2 separate regions of the Homo sapiens genome follow, and region 1 is linked to region 2. The links come from fine-mapping of genetic effects on gene expression. Tissue or cell type: subcutaneous fat. Region 2 holds a variant in brackets; the other region holds the start of a gene. All regions are shown on one strand. Distances are from middle to middle.

Region 1 (5,923 bases), 28 kb after region 2:
GAGTTGAAGTGGCAGGTGTCATACTGGTTATGCACCCATTGTGGGTCTGTTCTTCCCAAGGAATCCCAGCCCTTGTGTTTCTGCATCACTAGATCCTCCATGAACATTCCCCAGAACCCACTTAGACTGCAGCAACCACAGGGGACGGGTGGGACCCTGGGGAGCTATGGAATTCCTAGAAGTCTAGCTCTTAGGAGAAGGGAGAGTGTCTGTGCCAACGTACTCCTTTGGATAAAAGAAACCAGTTCATTTGCTCTCCTCTGCCTAAGAGCTCCCCACGTGTGAGAAGAGGCTGGCTGTGCCCCTCCCAGCAGAGACACAGGCATGGTTCTGGGGTCTGAAGGGGAGGAGTGTGGTTCTGCACCAGTAGGCAGGTGACACTGGTGCCTGGGAATAAACATGGAAAGGGAGTCTTCTCCTACCCCCTCACTCAATGCTCCAGATAGACCGTTGGCTGTCCCTACTGGGAGCTGGCACAAGTGCACCTGGGGATGGCTTTTGAGGGCTCCTGGGGGCAGCTGCACTCCCATTGATGGGGTGCCTGCTGGCCAAGCCTTGCACGAAGGGCAGAGTTTATCCTCCTCCCCATATGGAGCAGCAGCATTCCCATAGCAGAATGCAGATGAATATCAGAGCTGCTGAGGGAAGAGGTTCTATCCCAAGGCCATTTTGGTGGTAGCCACAGGACGGGTGTTTTCTGCAGACCTCCATCACACTGCAGCCTGGAGATGAAGGACAATGTCTATCTGAACTGAAGGTCACAAGCTCCGGGACAAGGGTGTTTTAGGAAAGTGGATTGCCTTCCTGCCTTCCCAGGATGTGGAGCTGGTATACTCCTTCCCACTCTGGTGGAGACATCAGTGCCTTTCACCATGAGCTCCCATTTCCACTCCCATCAAGGCAGTTGCTTCTGCTCATAATTGGGGTTTCCCAGGGTGAGCTTGGTCGTTTAGTGCCCCTCAGTTTTGTGTCCCCCTCCAAAGCTTTGTGTTCCCTTCAGGGAATCAGGCCATCCACAGACCAGCCAACTGCCTGTGACAACAGAGATCCCCTCCCAGAAAACAAAGACCAAGTACCCATCAGCTTATGCCACAGCCAGCTTTTATTGGGATGCAGATTGAATTGCACAACCAAATAAAAAACAGGCTGACAGAGGGTATAGTGCTGGGGAATGAGATAAACTTTCAGAGACTTCCACATTCCCAGCCCCTCAGAAGGTAGTATTCCTGCTCATATGCCCAATACATTGCTACTACAATCAGCATAATAAAGCCACCACACAAAAGCTATCTATACAGCATAATAAAGCCACCACACAAAAGCTATCTATGACCAAGGAACTCATACAGAGCTGTGACCCACGGAAGGCACCCAAAATTGAAGCCAAATGATCACACACAACATACAGTCACACCTTCAAAGGGGGAAAAAATCCCATTCAAATGAGAGTAAGTTCAAAAGTAAGAAGTAACGGGTTCTCTAGATGAGAAGAAATCAGCATAAGCACTCTGGAAGTACGAAAAACCAGTATTTTGACATGCCCAAAGGATCACACCAGCTCCCTAGCAATGGATCCTAACCAATATAAAAATTTTGAAATAACAAATAAAGAATTTAAGATATGAGTTGTAAGGAAGCTCAATGAGATACAAGAGAAAGTTGAAAACTAACATAAGGAAATCAGAAAAATAATTCAGGATATTAATGAAAAATTTACAAAAGAGATAGAGATTAAAAAACAAAAACCAAATAGAACTTCTAGAAATAAAAATTTATTGAAGGAACTATAAAATATAGTTGAAACTTTTAGCAAAAGACTAGACCAAGCAGAAGAAATAATTTCAGAGCCTGAAGGCCAGTCATTTGAATTAACCTAGTCAGACAGAAATACAGAAAAAATAAATTTTTAAAAATGAACAAAGACTTTGAAAAATATAGAATTACATAAAGTTACCAAATATACAATATATAGACATTCCTGAGGGAGAAGAAAAAAAATTAAAAGCTTGGAAAACCTATTTGAGGGAATAATTCAGGAAAACTTCCCTGGTCTTGCTAGAGAATTAGACATCCAGATAGGAGATGCTCAGAGAACACCTGGAAGATGCTTTACAAGAGAAACCTCATAAAGGCATATCGTCATCAGACTATCCAAAGTCAATGTGAAGGAAAACATCCTAAAAGCAGCAAGAGAGAAATGTCTAATCTATACAGGAAAACCCAACAGACTAACAATGGACTTCTTAGCAGAAACCTTACAAGCCAGAAGAGATTGGGGTCTTATGTTTAATCTACTTAAACAAAAATCCTGCCAGCCAAGAATTTTGTATCCTGCTAAACTAAGCTGCATAAATGAAGGAGAAATAAAGTTTTTCCCATACAACAAATGCAAAGGGAATTTGTCACCACAAGACCAGCACTACAAGAAATGCTTAAAGTTCTAAACATGGAAATGAATGGACAATACTCCTCATCATAAAAGCACATTAAAGTGAAAAACTCACAGATTATATAAAGCAATTACATAATTGAGACTAAAAAGCAACTGGGTAACAATTATCATGACAGGAACAAAACATCACATATCAATATTAACCTTGATAATAAATGGAGTAAATGTTCCACTTAAAAGATACAGATTGGTGCTGGGTATGATGGCTTACACTTGTAATCTCAGAACTTCGGTAGGCTGAGGCAGGAGAATTGCTTGAGACCAGGAGTTTGAGACCAGCGTGGGCAACAGAGTGAGACCCCATCTCTGTAAAAAATTAAAAAGAGAAATTAGCCAGGTGTGATCATGCTCACCTGTAAAGAGGCTGAGGCAGGACAATCACTTGAGCCCAGGAGTTTGAGGCTGCAGTGAGCTATAAATGCATTATGGCACTCTAGCCTGGGTGACAGAGTGAGACTGTCTCAAAAAAAAAAAAAATACATACAGACTAAAAGATTGGATAAAAGTAGCATCAGCTCAGGGGTCCTAACTAGTTACAAGAACAGTGCACAAGACAAACACCAGCTAAGATGGCAGGGAGAACAAGCCTGAACAAGGCAAGGCAGAGGTCTGCTAAGGGAAATCCATCCCACAAAAGACAAGCAAGGCAGGGGCTCTCTGAGGCCTAGAGCAGCATGCAAAAGAGCAACTCTTTCCAGGTGGCAGCTCCCTAGCTGCTGCCCCCACATGCTGCTGCCTCTGCAGCCACTCTACCTGCCCCACCCCTGCCCAGGTATTCCAAGCAGCTCTCAGCTCTTTCCCAATATCTGGGCAGTGCTGTTGAGACAAAGGAAGAGGAGAAGTGGACACAGCAGGTCTTGGCTCTTAAGATCTGCAGTTGTGAGTTCCTTTTGCAATCGCTGTAGGTCATTGTGCAACCTGCTGGTCTCTGGACTCCTGATTTCTAGACATCTATAAAATACAGACACTGATGATGCCACTTAATTCACAGAGCTGCAGTGAGAAAGGTGCAGATGAGTTCAAGGCCTGATAGTGTTCTGCAAACTATAGTGATGGATGTGCATAGTATTGTGAATATCAGTGGCAGGTTTCCAGAACGCAGGTGGGGATAAGAGTGAGTGAGTCAATAAAGAAGAAAATTGCCCCACTTCTTGAAGGGAGTTTTTGGGGCTGGGCAGCTCAGGGTACAGGGCAGGCATAAATAGTGAGTGCCTGCCAAGCAAAGGCTAGTTTGCTTGGAGCTCCTGGGGCCTAACAAAAAGAAACCTGTAAGTGTCTCTGTTCTTGCCTTCTTTTTATTTTCTCCACATCCTATAAATATCCCTCTGCCGACCTGGGCAATTCAACCTATTGGTGTGGAGGGTCTGTGTAGCTGTTCTGGTCTAGGAGGCATGGGCGCAGGAGGTGGGGAGCACAGGAGGTCTTATGGTGCTCTTCTGCCCCTTATTCAGTGGCCTCAGCCCAGGGGAGGATTTGCTTTCTGAGCTGGGGGTGCACAGGGTGGAAGAGTGGGTGTGACACTATCTAGACCTGGGATGCCACAGTGTGGAAGCTTCAGGTGGAAAAATGCAATGCTAATTTATCTCTAGGCTCTTTTCTGCACTGATTTCTTCAGAAAGGACAGTGGAAGAGAGACAAACCCAGGCACTCACAGGCTGGGGTTCTAAACCCATCCTGGTGCCAACAGCCTGTGGAAAAGCAGGGCAAGCCTGTTTTTCTCATAGCTTCAGGTCTTTACTTTAAAAAATATACTTACTGGAGTAGGTCTCTGATTTTCCAATCCATGTTCAGAGGAGATGGCCTTTTCAATGAAATTGTACTCTGAAAGCTTAGCATAAACTGGGCACTGCAGGGGTTGAGGGGGACCACAACTCTGCCCACTCCATCTGCTGCCCCAGCTAAGATGCCTCATCTGAATCCTGGGCCTGAAAACCCGGGTCTGCCCTCTCCAAGTGTCCTTCAAGCCACAGTGGCTGCTGGTGCCTTCTGTGCCATCTTGAGCCTGTAGACAGAATGCCTATTGCCTTTCATTCTTCCCCAGAATCAGACACAGGGCCTGAGGGGTGAGGGAGCTGCGGGGCACAGAACAATGCCCTTGCTCTGGCCTGGGTCTGGCCCTTGCTGCTCATGATTGAGCCTCTGCCAGAACAGGTGTAACAAGGTAGCCGCTGCTGGCAGTGAGCTCACCCAGGTGTTTCTAGAGACTACCAGGATACCCAAGGAAGTGGTGATTTCAAAATTGAAAGAGGCTAGTGAGAAATAGGGGTCATCCACAGCCCAGAATCACCAGCAGTCAAAGAAGAAGGCACTCCTCTGGGCAGGAAGCCCCCCACTTGCCACCACCCCAGTTGGCCTGGTGACCCCTTTCTTTGCACAAGTCCCTCTGGCTTTGTTCCTAGCCTCTGCGAATCTGATCAGCTCTTTTCACTCTCATAACTTTACGGTTTCTCATTGAGAGAAAAGATACCCAAAACAGTTAATGTCCCAGGTCCTGCTCTTATCCTGGTCTCAGTTCCTGACCATCTTAGATAGTAAATGGGTGCCCTGTTGGGTAGTTGCTCTTGCTTACCCACAACACTAGCTTTCTGCCTGACTGAGCCTACCTGGCATGTCCTCTTTCCATATAAGACTTCTTTTTTTTTCTGAGATGGAGTCTCACTCTCTTGCCCAGGCTGGAGTGCAGTGGCACGATCTCGGCTCACTGCACCCTCCACCTCCCGGGTTCAAGAGATTCTCCTGCCTCAGCCTCCCGAGTAGCTGGGATTACAGCACGCACCACCACATCTGGCTAATTTTTTATACTTTTAGTAGAGATGGGGTTTTGCCATGTTGGCCAGGCTGGTCTCGAACTCCTGACTTCAAGTGATCTGCCCGCCTCGGCCTCCCAAAGTGCTGGGGTTACAGGCATGAGCGACCGTGCCCAGACTCCACATACTTCTTTTCCAAACCCTCTCAGGTCTTAGAAGAACTCTAGGTGTCTCAGGATTTCTCCTACTGCTAGTTTAGTGTCTCTGAAAACTTTCACCTGGGTTCCCTCTGGGACTTTTCTCTAGAGACAGCACCTGCTCGAGGAATGGCAAATTGCCAGGCAAATGTGCACCACACTCCCAGCCTGCGCTCAGGAAGGACATTACTAAGCACTCAGGACTCTGGCTGCATTTTCAGACCAGCACTATCAGCACCAGTGCTAGTCCATGCAAGGCAGCAAGAGAGAAGAAACAGGCTTGCCTTGTCTGAGCTAAGCCAGTTGCCTCAGTGGTACAGACAGGGAGATGGTCTAGGGAGTGGGCGGGGGGTGTCCTGCCCAGAGGCACTCAATGAACCCTTCTTGATGTGACAGATGGCCCCAGTGAGGAATGCTACATCCTAGCCACTGTGCCAAACTTAGTGCCCAAGGGAAGGCACAAGAAGGGAAGACATGAGCACCTGGGAATGGGGGATGCTGCTGTCAACCTATGTCAGAGTTCCAGC
Region 2 (6,351 bases):
CTGCTGTTGAGAGACTCTAATGCATTCTTCAGTGTGTCAATTGAATTTTTCAGCTGCAGAATCTCTGCTCGATTCTTTTAAATTACTTCAATCTTTTTGTTAAATATATTTAACAGGATTCTGAATTCCCTCTCTGTATTACCTTGGATTTCATTGAGATTTCTTAAAACAGCTATTTTGAATTCTCTGTGTAAAAGGTCACATATCTCTCTAACTCTGGAGTTGGTCACTGATGCCTTATTTAGTTTGGTGAGGTCATGTTCTCCTTGGTGGTCTTGATGCTTGTGGATATTTGCCAGTGTCTGGGCATTAAAGAGTTAGGTATTTAATCTTTTCAGTGTGGGCTGGTTTGTACTTGTCCTTCTTGAGAAGGCTTTTCAAGTATTCAAAGGGAAATGAGCGTCGTAATCGAATTATTTGGTCACTGCAGCCAAATACACAATAGGGGGAACCCCAAACTCAGTAATGCTGTGACTCTTGCAGACCCATAAAAGTATCACCTTAGTGGTCTTGGGTGAAATCTGAGAGAAGTCCCTGGATTACCAGACAGTCTCTTGTTCTCTTCCCATACCTTCTCCCAAACAGACAAAGTCTTTCTCTCCATGCTGAGGTGCCTGGAGTTGAGGAAGGGGTGACACAAGCACTCCCATAGCCATCACTGCTGGGATTGTGCTGGGTCACACCTGAAGCCAGCACAGTACTGGGTCCCACCTAAGGCCTCTGGTGACAATTTCCTGGCTACCACTGATGTTTATTCAATGTTCAAGGGCTCTGTAGTCAGCAGGTGATGAATCCTGGCCAGGACTGAATTTTTCTCTTCAGTGCAGCAATTTACCTTCTGTCTCAGGGTGAGTCTATAAATGCCATCTCGGAGCTAGGGCCTGGGATTGGGGATTTTAGGAATCTGCTTGATGCTTTATTTTACCGAGACTGAGCTGGTACCCAAGTTACAAGACAAAGTCCTTTTTACTTTTCCCTTTCCTTTCCTCAAGCAGGAGTCCCTCCCTGTGGCCACCAGAGCTGGGAATGTGCTGGGTTGCACATGATGCCAGCAAGGTACTGAGTCTCATCCAAAATCCATGGTACTTACTGCCTGGTTACCACTGATGTTTATTCAGGGCCCAAGGGCTCTTTAGTTAGCAGGGGGTGAATTCTGCAAGGACTGGCTTCTTTCCTTGAGGGCAGTGGGTTTTCTTCAGGCCCAAGATGAGTCTAGAAATTTCATCTGGGAGCTATGGCTTAGAATTGGGGCTTCAGGACTCTGCTTGGTGCTTTATTTTACTGTGGCTGAGCTGGTATTCAAGTTGCAAGACAAAGTCCCCTTTACTCTTTTTTCTCCCACATTTGTGAGCTGCACTGCCTGGAGTTGGCGGGGAGGAGTGAGGCAAGCACTTTCTTGGCCACTCCAGGTGATATCTCACTGGGTCACCTACACCTCAAGCAAGTCCACTGGCTCTGAGCCCAGCTAGCATAGGGACTTGCCCAGGAATTTCAGTCCTTGTGTCTAGACTGCCTTTCAAGTTTATTTAGGATCCCAGAGTACTTCATCCCATGGTGGTGGGTCTATCCAGATTCTGACCCCTGGAATGGACAATTCCTCTTTGGCTAGGGCTGGTCTAAATGCTTCCTCTGTGAGTGCTGGCTGAACTGTGTCCTGTGTTGCTTTCTGCTGTGACAGCATTCCAATGCAAAGTTCCATAATCACTTTGCTCTCTCTCTCCCAAGTACACAGATCTCTCTCATACCACTTGATGCTGCCAGTGAATGGGGGTAGTGTAGGCAATTCAAGACTCTTTCCTTCCCTCTTCACTGCCTCTGTCCTTGATATGACGTTAAAACCATGTACTGTGATTGCTCACCTGATTTTTGGTTCTTATGAAGGTGTTTTTTTGTGCGGATAGTTGTCCAGGTTGGTGTTCCTGCAGGGCATGGGGAATGATCATTGGAGGGCTCTGGCCATCTTGCTCTGCTTCCTGATTCAATTTTTTATCAATGTTTTATTGTTTTTCAGTGTACAGATCATTCACCTGCTTGGTTAAATTTATTCCTAGATATTTTATTTATTTTTTATTTTCTGGTTTATGTTTTCTCATGATATTTTTAGATAGTTTAACATTTTGATGCTATTTAAGATTGTTTTCTTAATTTTTGTTTCTGATAGTTTGTTGATAGTATTTAAATTGCAACCGATTTTTGCACTTTGGTTTTGTATCCTGAAACTTTACCGAATTTATTTATTCTAACAGTTTTTTGGTGGAGTCTTTAGGGTTTAAATATAAGATAATGTAATCTGCAGACAGACAATTTTACTTCTTTCTTTCTTTCTTTCTTTCATTTGGGTGCCTTTTCTTTCTTTTTATTGCCTAATTGAGCTGGCTAGGATTTCCAGTATTTTGATAAATAGAAGTAACAAGAGTGTACATCCTTGTCTTGTTTCTAATCTTCAAGGAAAACATTTTAGAATTTCACCATTGAGAATGATGTTACCTGTAGATTTGTCATATAAGGCCTTTATTTTGTTGAGGTACATTCATTCTATACCTTTTTTTTTTTTTTTTTTTTTTTTTTGAGACAGGGTGTCACTCTGCTGCCCAGGCTAGAGTGCAGTGGCACAATCTTGACTCACTGCAGCCTCAACCTCCCAGGCACAAGTGATCCTCCCACCTCAGCCTCCCAAGTAGCTGAGACTACAGGCATGTGCCACCACACCTGGCTAATTTTTGTAATTTTTGTAGAGATGGGGTTTCATCATGTTGCCCATGCTGGTGTTGAACTCCTGAACTCAAGTGATCCACCCACGTTGGCCTCCCAAAGTGCTAGGATTACAGGCATGAGCCACTGCACCCAGCATATGCCTAATTTGTTGTGATGAATGTAATATCTCTTATGATGAAAGAATGTTTAATTTTATCAAATACTTTTTCTGCATCTATTGAGATGATCACATGGATATTTCCTTCACACTATTGTTGTGATGTATTACATTTGTTGATTTGCATGTGTTGAACCATCCTTGCACCCCTATGTTAGGTCCCATAGATTATACCAAACAGCATTGCATCTTGGACAGATGGTAACTAATCTACTGTAACTACAAATTATGGCAAAGCTATATCATCTGATAAAAACCAAAAGGCAAAAAATGGGACATCCTCCTTTTCACTTTAAAGAAAAGGTAAACAGACTGCAAGTGGTTAGGCTCACCTGTTCTTGAGTGCTACTGTCAGGGTAAGTCAAGAAATTCTTGAACTCAGACAAAGATTGCACTGCTTAATAAGCTGGGAGAAGGGTGGTGCTGGAGAACAGGTTAAATGAAAGATGTGAGGTATCATGCAAGATCTCTTTACTGAAAAATAAAACTTTCCTCAAAATTGAAGATAATGAAAGA[AAGAG/G]AGGAAGAAAGAAAGGTGGAAAAGAAAGGAAAAAAAAGAAGTAAATCTGAAGACCTACTTCATGTATAAATGGAAAAAAATCTGTAACAACTCCTTAGTAGGCTGTGGATATCACATCTGTGTTGTAAAGCAATGACTGGATGAAAATTGCTACATTTAAATAATTCCAGCTGGCAAGAGGGCTCTTTCACCACAGATACCTGAAAAACACAAGTTCCTTATATTACCATGAGGACAAGAAAAACTAGCCAGATTGATTTGTAAATGAGACTGATTACCTGTGAAACTAGATACATCAAATAGATTACAATGTTGCTTTGTGCATGTGTGAGCACTGTGTGTGTGTATGTGTGTGTTGTTGTTGTTTGTTTATGATTGAGTATCAGAAAAGCTGCTTGCTTGAACTAAATGAAACATTATGAGTATTAATAGAAGTAATGTCCTGTGGAACTCTAGGATTCTTCACAGCTAGTAGGTTGCTCTCTGGCCTCAGGTTTCAGCTGGGGCTTGTTTGTGAGCAGAGCACCAATACAGTGAGTCCTGTGGTTGGGAGGGATTCCACAGGGTAAAAAGATCTTGATTGAGGGTCACTAATTGCAGAGACTTTTGCTAAAGAATAAATCCTTGGCACCCAGCCAGGAACTAAGCTGAGTTTGGCTCCAGAGGTGAAATGGCCACGTCTCACACCTATAGTTTCTTCCCCACTGTATTAGTCTGTTTTCATGCTGCTGATAAAGACATATGCAAGACTGGGAAGAAAAAGAGGCTTAATTGGATTTACAGTTCCACGTGTCTGGGGAGGCCTCAGAATTATGGTGGGAGGAGAAAGGCACTTCTTACATGGCTGCCATCAAGAGAAAATGAGGAAGAAGGAAAAGCAGAAACCCTTGATAAATCCACCAGATCTCATGAGACTTATACACTATCATGAGAAAACCATGGGAAAGACCAGCCCTCATGATTCAATTACCTCCTCCTGGGTCCCTCCCACAACATGTGGGAATTCTGGGAGATACAATTCAACTTGAGATTTGGGTGGGGACACAGCCAAACCATATCACCCACTCTGAGAGGATGGTTGCCAGGCAGCACCCAATGACCCATGCCACTTGAACTAGAAGTGGCCTGCTAGTCCCATAACTTGGTTTTGAAGACTTCTTGTCCCCAGTTCTCAGAAGGGGGAGGTGGAAAGCTTCATTATGCTCTTGTTGAATCCTCAGGGTTTTTCCCTTTAGGTGCAGATGGCTTTACTGAGAAAAGCCCTTTTTTTCCAGCCTGGACTTGGACTCTGGCAGCAGTGGCAGTGGTGGTGCCATCACTCTTCTGGCACCAGACTTCCTTCAACAGCCATTTTATCACTCACCCTCCCAAACTCTGTGGTTTCCCAGAGCAGTAGATATGATTGACTCAGTAGCCAGGGACTTCTGGGAGCATGCAGATGTGTTTTTGCACAGGCTGTCAGGTGATGGGATAGGATCCACTGTGCAAGCCTGGATCTCAGGCTTCTTTGGGCTGGCTGACCAGGACCACAAAACCAGCTGAACTCCAGCTTTCAGCACCATTTATTGCCTTTGGCAATTCAAGTTTCCCCAAATCTTAAAGTCCTCATGCTACTGGAGTCACTCTTTCCTTTCAGAACCAAAGGCCATCACTTTGATTCTTTTGCCAAAAGAGAAACTTGTTTTTCTTAAGGCCACTGTATCCAGAACTCTTGTTTCACAAGGTATAGCCCACCACTTCTGTGTTGGGAACAGGCCCCCCAAAATCTGGCCATAAACTGGCCCCAAAACTGGCCATAAACAAAATCTCTGCAGCACTGTAACATGTTCATGATAACCATAACACCCACGCTGGAAGGTTGTGGGTTTACTGGAATGAGGGCAAGGAACACCTGGCCCACCCAGGGTGGAAAACCGCTTAAAGGCATTCTTAAGCCACAAACAATAGCATGAGCAATCTGTGCTTTAAGGGCATGTTCCTGCTGCAGATGACTAGCCAGACCCACCTCTTTATTTGGGCCCATGCCTTCCTTTCCCATAAAGGATACTTTTAGTTAATCGAATATCTATACAAACAATGCTAATGACTGGCTTGCTGTTAATAAATACGTGGTTAAATCTCTGTTCAGGGCTCTCAGCTCTGAAGGCTGTGAGACCCCTGATTTCCCACTTTACAATTCTGTTTCTGTGTGTGTGGGTTTAATTCCTCTAGTGCCGCTGGGTTAGGGTCTCCCCGACTGAGCTGGTCTCAGCAAGTGGTGTCCATCATGGGGACTCAAATCCAGGTCGAAGGGTCGCCGGAGCAACAGTTGGAGAATGTGGAACTAAGCTGGAGGACACCTGAGTACTCTTAAAGCAATCCCCGTGGTGAGTAAGAAGGGGAGCTTGGAAGCATCAGGGTAACAATGGGACAAGTGTGGGGTCTGGTTCATTCCACCTAGGAACTTTTTCACACTGATGAGGAGGAGGAAGGAGAGTATAACAAAGTAACAGAAGAGGTTACAGAGCAGTTTTATTTACCAGCTGAAGCTAAAGTGGCAAAGGAGGGAGAGGTTCATCCCTACCCTTCTGCACCCCCTCCTTATTATTTTGAAGAAAATGACCTTCCAGATCTTTCTTTTCCGGAGGACACTGGGCAAAAAGTAGTTGCCCCAGTGACTGTTCGAGCAGCACCTAGAGCGACTGCTCTTAGTTCTAGTCAGGCAGGAATTCAGCAAGCTAGATGAGAGAGTGATTTAGAGGCTTGGTGATTCCCTGTTGGAATACACCCCCCCAGATCAACAGGGAAATATTATAGCTACATTTGAGCCCTTTCCTTTTAAATTACTCAGAGTAGCCAGATCCACCCCTTTATTTCGGCCCATCCCTTTGTTTCCCATAAGGGATACTTTTAGTTAATCGAATGTCTATAGAAACAATGCTAATTAATGCTCTGAAGGCTGTGAGACCCCTGATTTCCC

Direction of the effects. Positions count from the first base shown, and alleles are read on the strand shown. Sizes are in standard deviations (SD) of each study's normalised expression.
In carriers of allele G in region 2, the expression in subcutaneous fat of the gene that starts at base 3,681 in region 1 tends to be higher than with AAGAG alone (large effect, 1.2 SD a copy in FUSION).

What was found. PIP is the estimated chance that this variant, and not a neighbour inherited with it, causes the effect.
Region 1: SFTPD starts here. The variant in region 2 is fine-mapped to the expression of SFTPD in subcutaneous fat (FUSION, PIP 0.95).

Annotation. Positions count from the first base shown.
Region 1 is chr10:79,946,863-79,952,785 of GRCh38, reverse strand. SFTPD (surfactant protein D) reads left to right here and starts at 3,681. Exons shown (of 8, transcript NM_003019.5): 1 at 3,681-3,720.
Region 2 is chr10:79,974,869-79,981,219 of GRCh38, reverse strand. It overlaps a transcript of SFTPD not described here. Among named protein-coding and RNA genes, the nearest start is that of SFTPD, 29 kb to the right of the region's middle. The variant AAGAG/G (reference allele first, on the strand shown) is at 3,389.